Linked DNA regions of Homo sapiens: region 2 is linked to region 1. Evidence: fine-mapped expression QTL. A gene starts in region 1. The other region holds a variant in brackets. All regions are shown on one strand. Distances are from middle to middle. Region 1 holds the start of UBE2K (ubiquitin conjugating enzyme E2 K). Region 2 overlaps UBE2K (ubiquitin conjugating enzyme E2 K).

Region 1 (5,383 bases):
TTGGGACTACAGCGCACGCCACCACACCCAGCTAAGTTTTTGTATTTTAGTAGAGTCGGGGGTCTCACCATGTTGCCCAGGCTGGTCTCGAATTCCTGAGCTCAAGCGATCCGCCCGCCTCGGCCTCCCAAAGTGCTGGGATTACAGACATAAATCAGGGCGCCCGGCCTGGACCCTTCTAACTGGTCCCCCTTTGAGTATTCCAAGTTTCTTCACATTCCAAGATTAGGATTGGACAGTGATAATGTAAAGTGCTCAAAAAGTTTTTGCACTCTTCAAAATAATTTTTTTAAGTCTACTGGCACAAATACATATAGCATTGCGTGATTTACATTACACCAATAATTCCTTGTACCATGACCTACGTATATGGTTGAGTCCTCTTAGGACCACTAGGGGGCTCTGCTAGAAGGGTTTATATAATTTATGTCAGCCCACTTAGGGGAAATGTTTTGAGATGATATTTTCGAATTCTGAACTCTTAAAACTTGAGAGAGATAATCTAATCCAGTTTTCTCGTTTCGTAGATGAGGAAATAAAAGCTGGCAAGAGAACTGCCATGGGAGAGAACTGGAATTTTAAAATCTCCTCTTGGTTCCTGGGGCGGGAGTTTAAGAAATTCTCTTTTGCCTTGTGCCCCCACTGATTCGCCTCCATTGGCTATTTCCATGTTTGCCACCACAATTTTAATTACTTTTGGTAAAACCATGTATTTGTGATATTTTTATAATAGATATTTTACTGATTGGCTAGGTGAAGAAAGTGCATGAAGTATAAACTTCTGAAATGACACCCTTATTACTTATTCCAAAATGTTCTATTCAAAATGCTTCTCAGTACCAAACCATTATTACTATGCACCTTAGAAACCACTTTCTTTTTTAAAAATTATTATCTTTAGAGACAGGATTTCACCATAGGGCCCAGGTTGGTCTCAAACTCCTGGGCTCAAGTGATCTGCTCCCCCTCGGCCTTCCAAAGTGCTGGGATTACAGGCGTGAGCCACCGCGCCCGACCAGAAACCACTTTCTTTTGTTTGTTTGTTTTTTGTTTTTTTTTGAGACGGAGTCTCGCTCCGTTGCCCAGACTGGAGTGCAGTGGCGCAATCTCGCTCGCTGCAAGCTCCGCCTCCCGGGTTCACGCCATTCTCCTGCCTCAGCCTCCCGAGTAGCTGGGACTACAGGCGCCCGCCACCACGCCCAGCTATTTTTTTTATATTTTTTTAGTAGAGACGGGGTTTCACCGTGTTAGCCAGGATGGTCTTGATCTCCTGACCTCGTGATCCGCCCGCCTCCGCCTCCCAAAGTGCTGGGATTACAGGCGTGAGCCACCGCACCTGGCCCAGAAACCACTTTCAAACTTACTTTCCACTTAAAATATTTTATACTTTTTGTTTTGTTTTGTTTTGTTTGAGACAGAATCTTGCACTGTGGCCCAGGCTGGAGTGCAGTGGCGCGATCTCGCTCACTGCAACCTCCGACCCCCAGGTTCAAGCGATGTTCCTGCCTCAGCCTCCAGAATAGCTGGGATTACAGGTGCCTGCCACCACACCTGGCTGATTTTTGTATTTTTAGTAGAGATGGGGTTTCACCATGTTGGCCAGACTGGTCTCGGACTCCTGACCTCAAGCGATCCGCCGCGCCAGCAAAAACGTTTTAGTCTTATCTGTACTCATTTACTCATTCAATATTTATTGAGTGCCTACTATCACCAGGCACCTTTGAGGCCTAGGTTTACAGAAATAAGGCTCCCCCTCCCCCACCCCGAGTCCCCTGAAGGGTACTGTAATTGTTTCCATTTCTCCAATTTTCACTTTAATATATGTGAATTTTCACATGCTTCATTCAGTTCAGTGGTTCTCATAATGTGGTCCCGGAACCAGCACCAACAGCAGCAGCAACTGGGAGACTTGTTAGAAGCGCAGTCTTAGGCCCACCCTACACTCTAGGGATGGGCATAGGAGTGTGTGTGTGTGTGTGTGTGTGTGTGTGTGAGAGAGAGAGAGAGAGAGAGAGAGAGATTGTGTGTGTGTGTCAAGCTCGGTATTAAATAGGTCAAAGAGCAACATCTGGCTTCTAAACCCACCCTCAGGCCTCTCCACCGAGTACCTGTCTCAAACCCAATCTGATCCAACAATAACCAGCCTTAATTCAATAATCTGTGCTACCTGAGATGATGGGAATAATCGTGGTACTATAAATGTTGCAGAACAAAAACGACTGCAGTAGATTTTCTGGGGCTACACCAACTGAAAATGGGCCGGACCGAGATCCGGGAGAGCGTTTTCCTGCGCTAGACACGGCGTTCAGCCTCCGGGTTCCGGGTCTAGCTGAGTCAGGGCGGCGTTCCAGCCGAGTGCGGCGTCGGAAACCCGTTCGGTTGCGCCCGAACCTTCGGTCAGAGGCCAGCGCTGGAAGCCCAGACCACAGCACCCGGGTTTAAACAGGAGCGGAGGCGCCGGGAAGGGCCGGGGGGGCCGGCTAGGGCCGGCCAGCTTGGAAGCCGCACCCTCGCGGCCCCAGACGCCGGCAGGGCGGAGCCACGCGGCCGCAGCCCCAGCCGAGACGCGAGCTCGTGGCTCGGGCGTATGGGGGCTCCAACGGGAGCGGCTGCGCCGCCCGGCCGGGTCAACGTCGTGCGCATGCGCCGACCCGGCGCCATTTTGGTGGCCGGGCGCGGAGGTGATTCCACACTGAGGCGAGCGCGGCGGCCGGGGTGGTAGTGGCAGTGTTCGTGTGCTCAGGTCTGAATCGCCGAGGGAGGAGGCGGTGGAGGAAGAGGTGGCGGCGGTGGCGGTGGTCGTAGCGGTGGCGGAGGAGGCGGGTACGAATCAGCTGCGGGCGGAGACATGGCCAACATCGCGGTGCAGCGAATCAAGCGGGAGTTCAAGGAGGTGCTGAAGAGCGAGGAGGTCAGAAATGAACTCCCGGATATCCCCCACCTCTGCCTGGGGCGGGAGGGTCCTCCCAGCTGCGACCCCGATATCCCCGGTAGTCCCTGGGTGGTCCTCCTTGCGGCCGCCCTTCTGCCTGTGAGGAAGCAGCAGTGTTCCCCTCCTCCTTCCGCCGCCTTCCCCTCCCCTCCCAGAGCGCTAGGATGGACGGTCTCGCGGGCGGGTGGTCTGGGGTGGAACATGGTTTGGGGAGGTGATGGACAGGGGGCAACTCCTCGGAGGGATGGAAGCTCACAAGAGAACCCGAGGCGGTGGCCGCAGCTGGAAATGTGGCTGTGGGGTGGGGAGGGAGCAGGCCGAGCCTGAGAAAACCCGGGAAGTGGGTTGGGGGAAGGGGAAAGGTGGTAACTGGATCCCAAGAGCAGTGCTGCTCGAAGGCCCACACTTTTGAGGGTATTCGGGGTTATTGCCTGTCAGGCCTTCACTGTTCTTTTCTTGGGGAAGGAGCAGTGAGTCCTTAGGTATTGATTAAAAAGGAAGGACATTCAGAGTTAGTCCTTCTTAGTTGGGTGTTAGGAGTCAAAGGGAGACATAATAGAATACTGTCTTATTTGGTGGCAGGGGTAAGGGAATTTTCACCTGAGTTAGCAAGTTAATTCCAAATAAGATAATTATCTCTTTTCCACTTAACCCCCAAATTCCTAGGCCTCATCTTTATTGACATCTCAATCTTTTGAGTGGGCAAAGGCAAGGTGTTTGGTGTATTAAAGACATGTAAATATTTTTAGTTAGGAAACAAATAATGGAATGTATGAGTAGCTTATTTCAAAATATTGTTTACAAGTTACAGATCAGAGAGACTGTCTTAAGACAGTGCCTCTGTGACTCGTGTTGTGCCACGAAACTTCATTATGATGTCCCTCATAGTTAACTTGATTCTTACTTTTGAAAAGCAGACCTATTAAAAATGTGAAATTTCACCAGATTAATACATTGTTTCATCTCCTTATTGAGATTTATCACGACTTAACAGATTTTCAAAAAAGTTGCCTCCCGTTGCTCTTAAGTCCTGCAGAATTTAGATACATTTGTACTACGTTTATTTATGTAAGATATTCACAGTGCTCTAGTAATTTGACTCAAAATTATGCAAGTATTAGTACAGTTTCTCATACCAAGATCAACAAGAATGCCAGATTGTCTTCCCCACATGAATTAAACAAAAAGTAATACAGAAAATGATTATTTTCAAGATTCACATACCATTATTGAATATATCATTGCTATTTGTGTTTTTCTTTTACAGTTAGTACTTTAATAGTGTCAATAATAATTTGTGAAATTCAGCATTCTAAGTATGTGATGAGTATACATGGAGAAAAAATTATTTAAAATTCAAAAATGACAACAGACTTATTGAAAGTAGTATATAAGTCATGGTCGGTTTTACAGAGCATGTGTATGAACTCTGACCTCTATGTTTGTTCATATGCCAAAACTCTGAATGGAAGGATGACTTTGTATTTTGTGGTACAATGCAGAAATAGAGTCATAAGTGTCTGTACTGATACAATGAAACAGCAATTTTAACTTATTTAATATGAAAATGTATTCCAGGTTAGTTGACATATATACTCCTAATGAAAGCAGTTGTTGTTGCCAACAACTGAAAACATTTCTTGTTTAATAAGGTTGTACAAGCCTGAAACTTAATAGACTTTTAATGCTTTATTTTCTGTTACTTACGGTAACAGAAACAGTAAGTTACTGCTCTGGTAATTAATGTGGTCTCTTTGCTTTTTATGAGCTGACTTTTCACCGTGGTATTCTTAGTACTAAGTTGAAGATTACCAGAAATACTTGTATTGCTCTCTAGTAATGCATATTAAAAAAACACTGCTCTTTATACGTAAGGGATGTTGAAGCCTTACTTCAGATAAGCATCAAAAGTGTTTCAGAAGAAGAAAACAGGAAATGCAAACAGACAGGTTTTTTGTTGTTTTTGTTGTTTGTTTGTTTTGTTTTGTTTTGTTTAGAACAGTACCTGTATAAATATGGAAGGAAACTTCTGGGAAAATAAGTTGGAAAGAACATTTAGGAAAGGGTCACATCATTTAATCTTGGAATAAATATAACCAATAAATAGCTTATTTTCACCAGTATTTTTTGATATTTTAGTAGCCCCAGTTCTATAAGTGTATTGTTATTTTCAACTCATTGAAGACTTGTAGTATAGTCCATGTGTTTCCTTTTTAAGGGTGTAAATACAGTCTTTTGAATGGCTGATCAAATAAATGTTTCATCATGTCACTTTTTTGGTAAATCAGCACTTTACCGAAGTTTATTTCATGTGTTTGTATGCTTGTGTTTACTAAGAACACTGGTTGATTTAAGGACTTTTTGGGGTGGCCTTATAAGAGCCTTTGTAAAGATAGCTGACGCTTACTGGATTCTGGTTATGAGAGATTATAAGTGGCCGTTCTTAGAGTG
Region 2 (5,383 bases), 63 kb after region 1:
AATCCCAGCTACTTGGGAGGCTGAGGCAGGAGAATCGCTTGAACCTGGGAGGCGGAAGTTGCAGTTAGCAGAGATCATGCCATTGCACTCTAGCCTGGGCGACGGAGTGAGACCCCATCTCAAAAATAAAAAAAAAAAAGAAAGAAAAAGTTTGCAGATGAAAACTTCCCATTGACTTCTCTTTTTGCCCAGAGTTAAGCCAACAGTACTATTACTTGTAATTATCTTCCTATATAGCTAGTTGAAAGATTATGGTGTGTATATATAGAGAGAGAAGTTGAATTTTTATACCAAAACATTTTCTCCTAATATGATGTGCAGGAACAAAACATTTTTTACATCAACTATTCCCTTTTCCTAAGGCAGGTGAATAATCTTGTTTTTTATCTGTACAATTGAAATATTAGAATATACCAAAGACACATTAGATAAAATAGGTGAGACTAGATATTCATGAAGTCATTACTTTATTCCCAGAGCTTTACTGAGGTATAATTGACATTTAGTGCATATCCATATTTAAATGTGGATGTTTAGGTTTCAGAACTGGAATTTGATAGAGAAAAATACAGAGTCTTAATCATAGGAAAAATGAATTACATAAATAATTTTCAGCAGGCATACTAGAAAATAATTGGTTAATCTTGGTCTTTTATTAATGCATCTAGGGGTGATGATATACCTTTATTAATATTTAACTTATTTTAGTATATTTGTTTATTATTATTATTTTTTTTTGAGGCAAAGTCTCGCTCTGTCACCCAGGCTGGAGTGCAATGGTGCCATCTCTGCTCACTGCAACCTCCGCCTCCCGGGCTCAAGCAGTTCTCCTGCCTCGGCCTCCTAAGTATCTGGGATTACATTACAGGCATGTGCCACCACGCCCAGCTAATTTTTTTCTATTTTTAGTAGAGACAGGGTTCCACCGTGTTGGCCAGGCTGGTCTCAAACTCCTGACCTCAGGTGATCCACTGGCCTCGGCCTCCCAGAGTGCTGCAATGACAGGCGTGAGCCACTGTGCCCGGCCCCTGGTTTATTTCTTAATTCCACAACTTGTGCTGTGTGGAAACTATTTTCTAATGTTTTCCACTGACACTTACTATGACTAATGGTGTCTACTTACCTGGGGAAGAAAATGGCAACACATAAAAATTTCACTCAGTGACGCTGCCCTTCTAAAAGACACAAACAGGCACAGAATATCTGCCTGGTCGATAAGGTATGCTCAGCATCATTACTCATCAGGGAAATGCAAATGAAAATCACAATAAGATAACTACTACATGCCTGTAAACACAAATACCTCATGCATTGCTGGTAAGAATGTGGCTTAACCAGGCAGGGCACGGTGGCTCATGCCTGTTATCCCAACACTTTGGGAGGCCAAGGTAGGTGGATTGCTTGAGGTCAGGAGTTCAAGACCAGCCTGGCCAACATGGTGAAACCCCATCTCTACTAAAAATACAAAAATTAGCCAGGCGTGGGTGGTGGGCACCTGTAATCCCAGCTACTCGTGGGGCTGAGACAGGAGAATCTCTTGAACCTGGGAGGCAGAGGTTGCAGTGAGCCGACATCGCGCCACTGCACTCCAGCCTGGGTGACAGAGCGAGACTCTGTCACAAAAAAAAAAAAAAAACAGAAAAAAAAAAAAAAACAAATAATGTGGTTTAACCACTTAAAGCCAGTAATATCTACCAAAGCTAAACATACACCTTCAGTATGCCCTATCAGCTTCATTCCTAGGTATATATCTAAAAGAAATTAGTGTCTATGCCTACTTTTTAAAAGACATGTATAAAAGAATATTTATGGCAGATTTATTAATAGCCCCAACGGGAAATAACTTAGATGTCTCATCAACAAGAAAATTGATACATTGTGATCACACACTGGAGCACTACATAAACAGTAAAAAAGAGCCTATCATTGACACAAACAACATGGATGAGACTCAGTCATGTTGAGTGACAAAAGCCAGACACAAAAGAATACATACTGTATGGTTCAATTTTTATGAAATTGAAGATGAACCAGAATTTATGGTGATAAAAAATACGATAGCCCAGCGCAGTGGCTCACGCCTGTAATCCCAGCACTTTGGGAGGCCGAGGCGGGCGGATCATGAGGTCAGGAGATTGAGACCATCCTGGCTAACACGGTGAAACCCCGTCTCTACTAAAAATACAAAAAATTAGCTACAGCGAGACTCCGTCTCAAAAAATAAAAATTAAAATTAAAAAAAATTAAAACAAATAAAAAAATACGATAGTGGTGAGGGTGGGCAGGAGTTGTGAGTAGGAGGAGCAGAAGTGAGGCTTTGTAATGCTAAAAATACTCTATTTTTATCCAGGCGGTGGTTACATGGATATATACAGATATAAAAATTCATCCAGCTGCATGGTATCTTAACTTTGCTTAAACTTTAACAAAAAAATTTATAGCAGCTGGGTACAATGGTGCACACCTGTAGTCCCAGCTACTCAGGAGGCTGAGGCAAGAGGATTGCTTAAGACCAGCAAGTCTGGGCTGAAGTGTGCTATGCCAGTCAGGTGTCCACATTAAGTTGGGCATAAGTATGGTGACCTCTTAGGAACAGAGGACCACCAGATTGCCTAAGGAGACGTGAACCAGACAAGGTTGGAAACAGAGCAGGTCAAAACTCCTGTGCTAGTCAATAGTGAGATAACACCTGTGAATAGCCACTGCATCCCAGCCTTGACAACATAGTGAAACCCAATCTCTTTAAAAAATAAAATCTTTAGTATAAAAGCTGCCATCCTCTTTAAGTAGCATTTAGTGTTTTGAATGAACGTGGTTTAATTATTGATGATCTGTTGGAAGATCCTTAACAGAAAAGTTAGTCAACGGTATGAACAATTCACATGATTATTCTACATAGTAAGGCCTGAGTCCTTATGAATGAATATATGAATATTTACATAGCCACATTAACTATGTCTTACTGATTTGAGACTTGAGCAA[A/G]ATTTATTTACCGGACATAGATTTATGAGGTACTGATTTATTCATATTATCTTCTAAATTATAAAGATTGACACATTTTGAAATTTCATATTCCTGTTTGCCTGTTAGGATTTGTTATAATAGATTTAAGTTGATTGTATATACTGATCCTAAAGATATCAGTACAATATAGATTTGATCACTACTTTGTAAATAGAAGAAGAAATGGAACAAAAGCATGTTTTCAGTTATATACTTTTTCACATTACTGAATTTAGATTAGAGCAGTCCAAAATTGCACACATTTCTTTATATTATCGAAGATACAGTTTCTATAGTATTCATTTTTTTTTTTTAAAGTTTTAGGCCGGTTGCTGGCCGGATGTGGTGGCTGATGCCTATAATCCCAGCAGTTTGGGAGGCCGAGGTGGGTGGATCACGAGGTTGGGAGTTCAAGACCAGCCTGGGCAAGATGGTGAAACCCCGTCTCCACTAAAAATAAAAATAAAAAATTAGCCGGGCGTAGTGGCATGCGCCTGTAATCCTAGCTACTCTGGAGGCTGAGGCAGAGAATCGCTTAAACCTGGAGGGGCAGAGGTTGCAGTGAGCCGAGATCGCCTCACTGCACTGCAGCCTGGGCTACAGAGCGAGACTCCCATCTCAGTAAAATAATAATAATAATAATAATAATAAATCTTGAAATTTATTTTATTTATTTACTTATTGTAGAGATGGGGTCTTGCTATGTTGCCCAAGCTGGTCTCAAGCACCTGGCCTCAAGTGATCCTTCCACCTTGGCCTCCTGAAGTGCTAAGATTACAGACTTGACCCCCTACTCCTGGTCTATAGTATTTAGGGTTAGAAAAATAGGTGTGGTAGGCTGTTTTTGCATTGCCATAAAGGAATACCTGAAACTGAGTAATTTATAAGGAAAAGAGGTTCCATTTGGCTTCTGATTCTTCAGGCTGTATAGGAAGTGTGGTGCCAACATCAGCTCAATTTCTGGTGAGGCCTCAGGGAGCTTATGATCACAGCAGAAGATGAAAGAGGAGCCTGTTTCACATCATGAGGGTAGAAAATAGAGTGGAAGCAACAGAGAGCAGGGAAGTTGCCACATACTTTTAAAACACTTTGTTTGAGACAGTCTCACACTGTTGAGCAGGCTGGTGTGCAATGGCACAATCTTGGCTCACTGCAGCCTCCGCCTGCTGGGTTCAAGCGATTCTCCTGCCTCATCCTCCTGAGTAGCTGGGACTACAGGTGCGTGCTATCACGCCTGGCTAGTTTTTGTATTTTTAGTGAGATGGTGTTTCACTGTGTTGGCCAGGCTGGTCTCGAACTCCTGACCTCATGATCTGCCCTCGGCCTCCTAAAGTGTTGGGATTACAGGCGTGAGCCACGCACCCGGCCAAAAAACACTTTTTTTTTTTTTTTTTTTTTTTTTTTGGAGACTGTCGCCCAAGCTGGAGTACAATGGTGCAATCTTGGCTCACTGCAACCTCCACCTCCCGGGTTTAAGCACTTCTCGTGCCCTCATGCCTCAGCCTCCTGAGTAGCTGGGATTACAGGCACGTGCCACCATGCCCAGCTAATATTTGTGTTTTTAATACAGATAGACTTTTGCCATGTTGGCCAGGCTGGTCTGGAATTCCTGGGCTCAAGTGATCCACCCGCCTTGGCCTCCCAAATTGCTGGGGTTAAAGGCATGAGCCACTGCATCCAGCCTTAAAACACTTTTTTTTTTTTTCTTTGAGACAGAGTTTCGCTCTTGTTACCCGGGCTGGAGTGCAATGTCACGATGTTGGCTCACTGCAACCTCCACCTCCCGGGTGCAAGTGATTCTCCTGCCTCAGCCTCCCAAGTAGCTGGGATTACAGGCATGTGCCACCACACCCAGCTAATTTTGTAATTTTAGTAGAGACGGGGTTTCTCCATGTTGGTCAGGCTGGTCTCGAACTCCCAACCTCGGATCATCTGTGCACCTGACCTCCCAAAGTGCTGGGATTACAGGCATGAGCCACCACGCCCAGCCAAAACACTTAAAACAACCAGCTCTCACATGAACTCAGTCATCACCAATGGGGTGGCACTAAGCCATTCATGAGCGATTTGCCCCCAGGATCCAAACACCTCTCCCCAGGCTCCACCGCCAACACTGGGAATTACATTGCAGCATGAGATTTGGAGAGGACAAATATCCAAACTATATCAATAGGTTTTGTTTGGATATTTATTTTTATTTTTATTTTTTGAGACAGAATCTCACTCTGCCACCCAGACTAGAGTGCTGTGGCTCACTGCAGCCTCAACCTTCCAGGCTCAATTGGTCTTCCCACCTCAGCCTTCTGAGTAACTGTAACTACAGTCACGTGCTACCACACTTGGCTAATTTTTTGTAGAGACAGAGTTTCACCTCATTGCC

The links.
Region 2: its variant is fine-mapped to the expression of UBE2K in whole blood (INTERVAL, PIP above 0.99).

The regions. Positions count from the first base shown.
Region 1 is chr4:39,695,480-39,700,862 of GRCh38, forward strand. It overlaps UBE2K (ubiquitin conjugating enzyme E2 K), which reads left to right and starts at 2,657. Exons shown (of 7, transcript NM_005339.5): 1 at 2,657-2,911. The coding sequence starts at 2,849. RefSeq lists an enhancer at 2,211-2,270 and a silencer at 2,351-2,640.
Region 2 is chr4:39,758,557-39,763,939 of GRCh38, forward strand. The region is part of intron 4 of UBE2K (ubiquitin conjugating enzyme E2 K); the gene reads left to right. It also overlaps the pseudogene RN7SL558P. Among named protein-coding and RNA genes, the nearest start is that of UBE2K, 63 kb to the left of the region's middle. The variant A/G (reference allele first, on the strand shown) is at 2,983.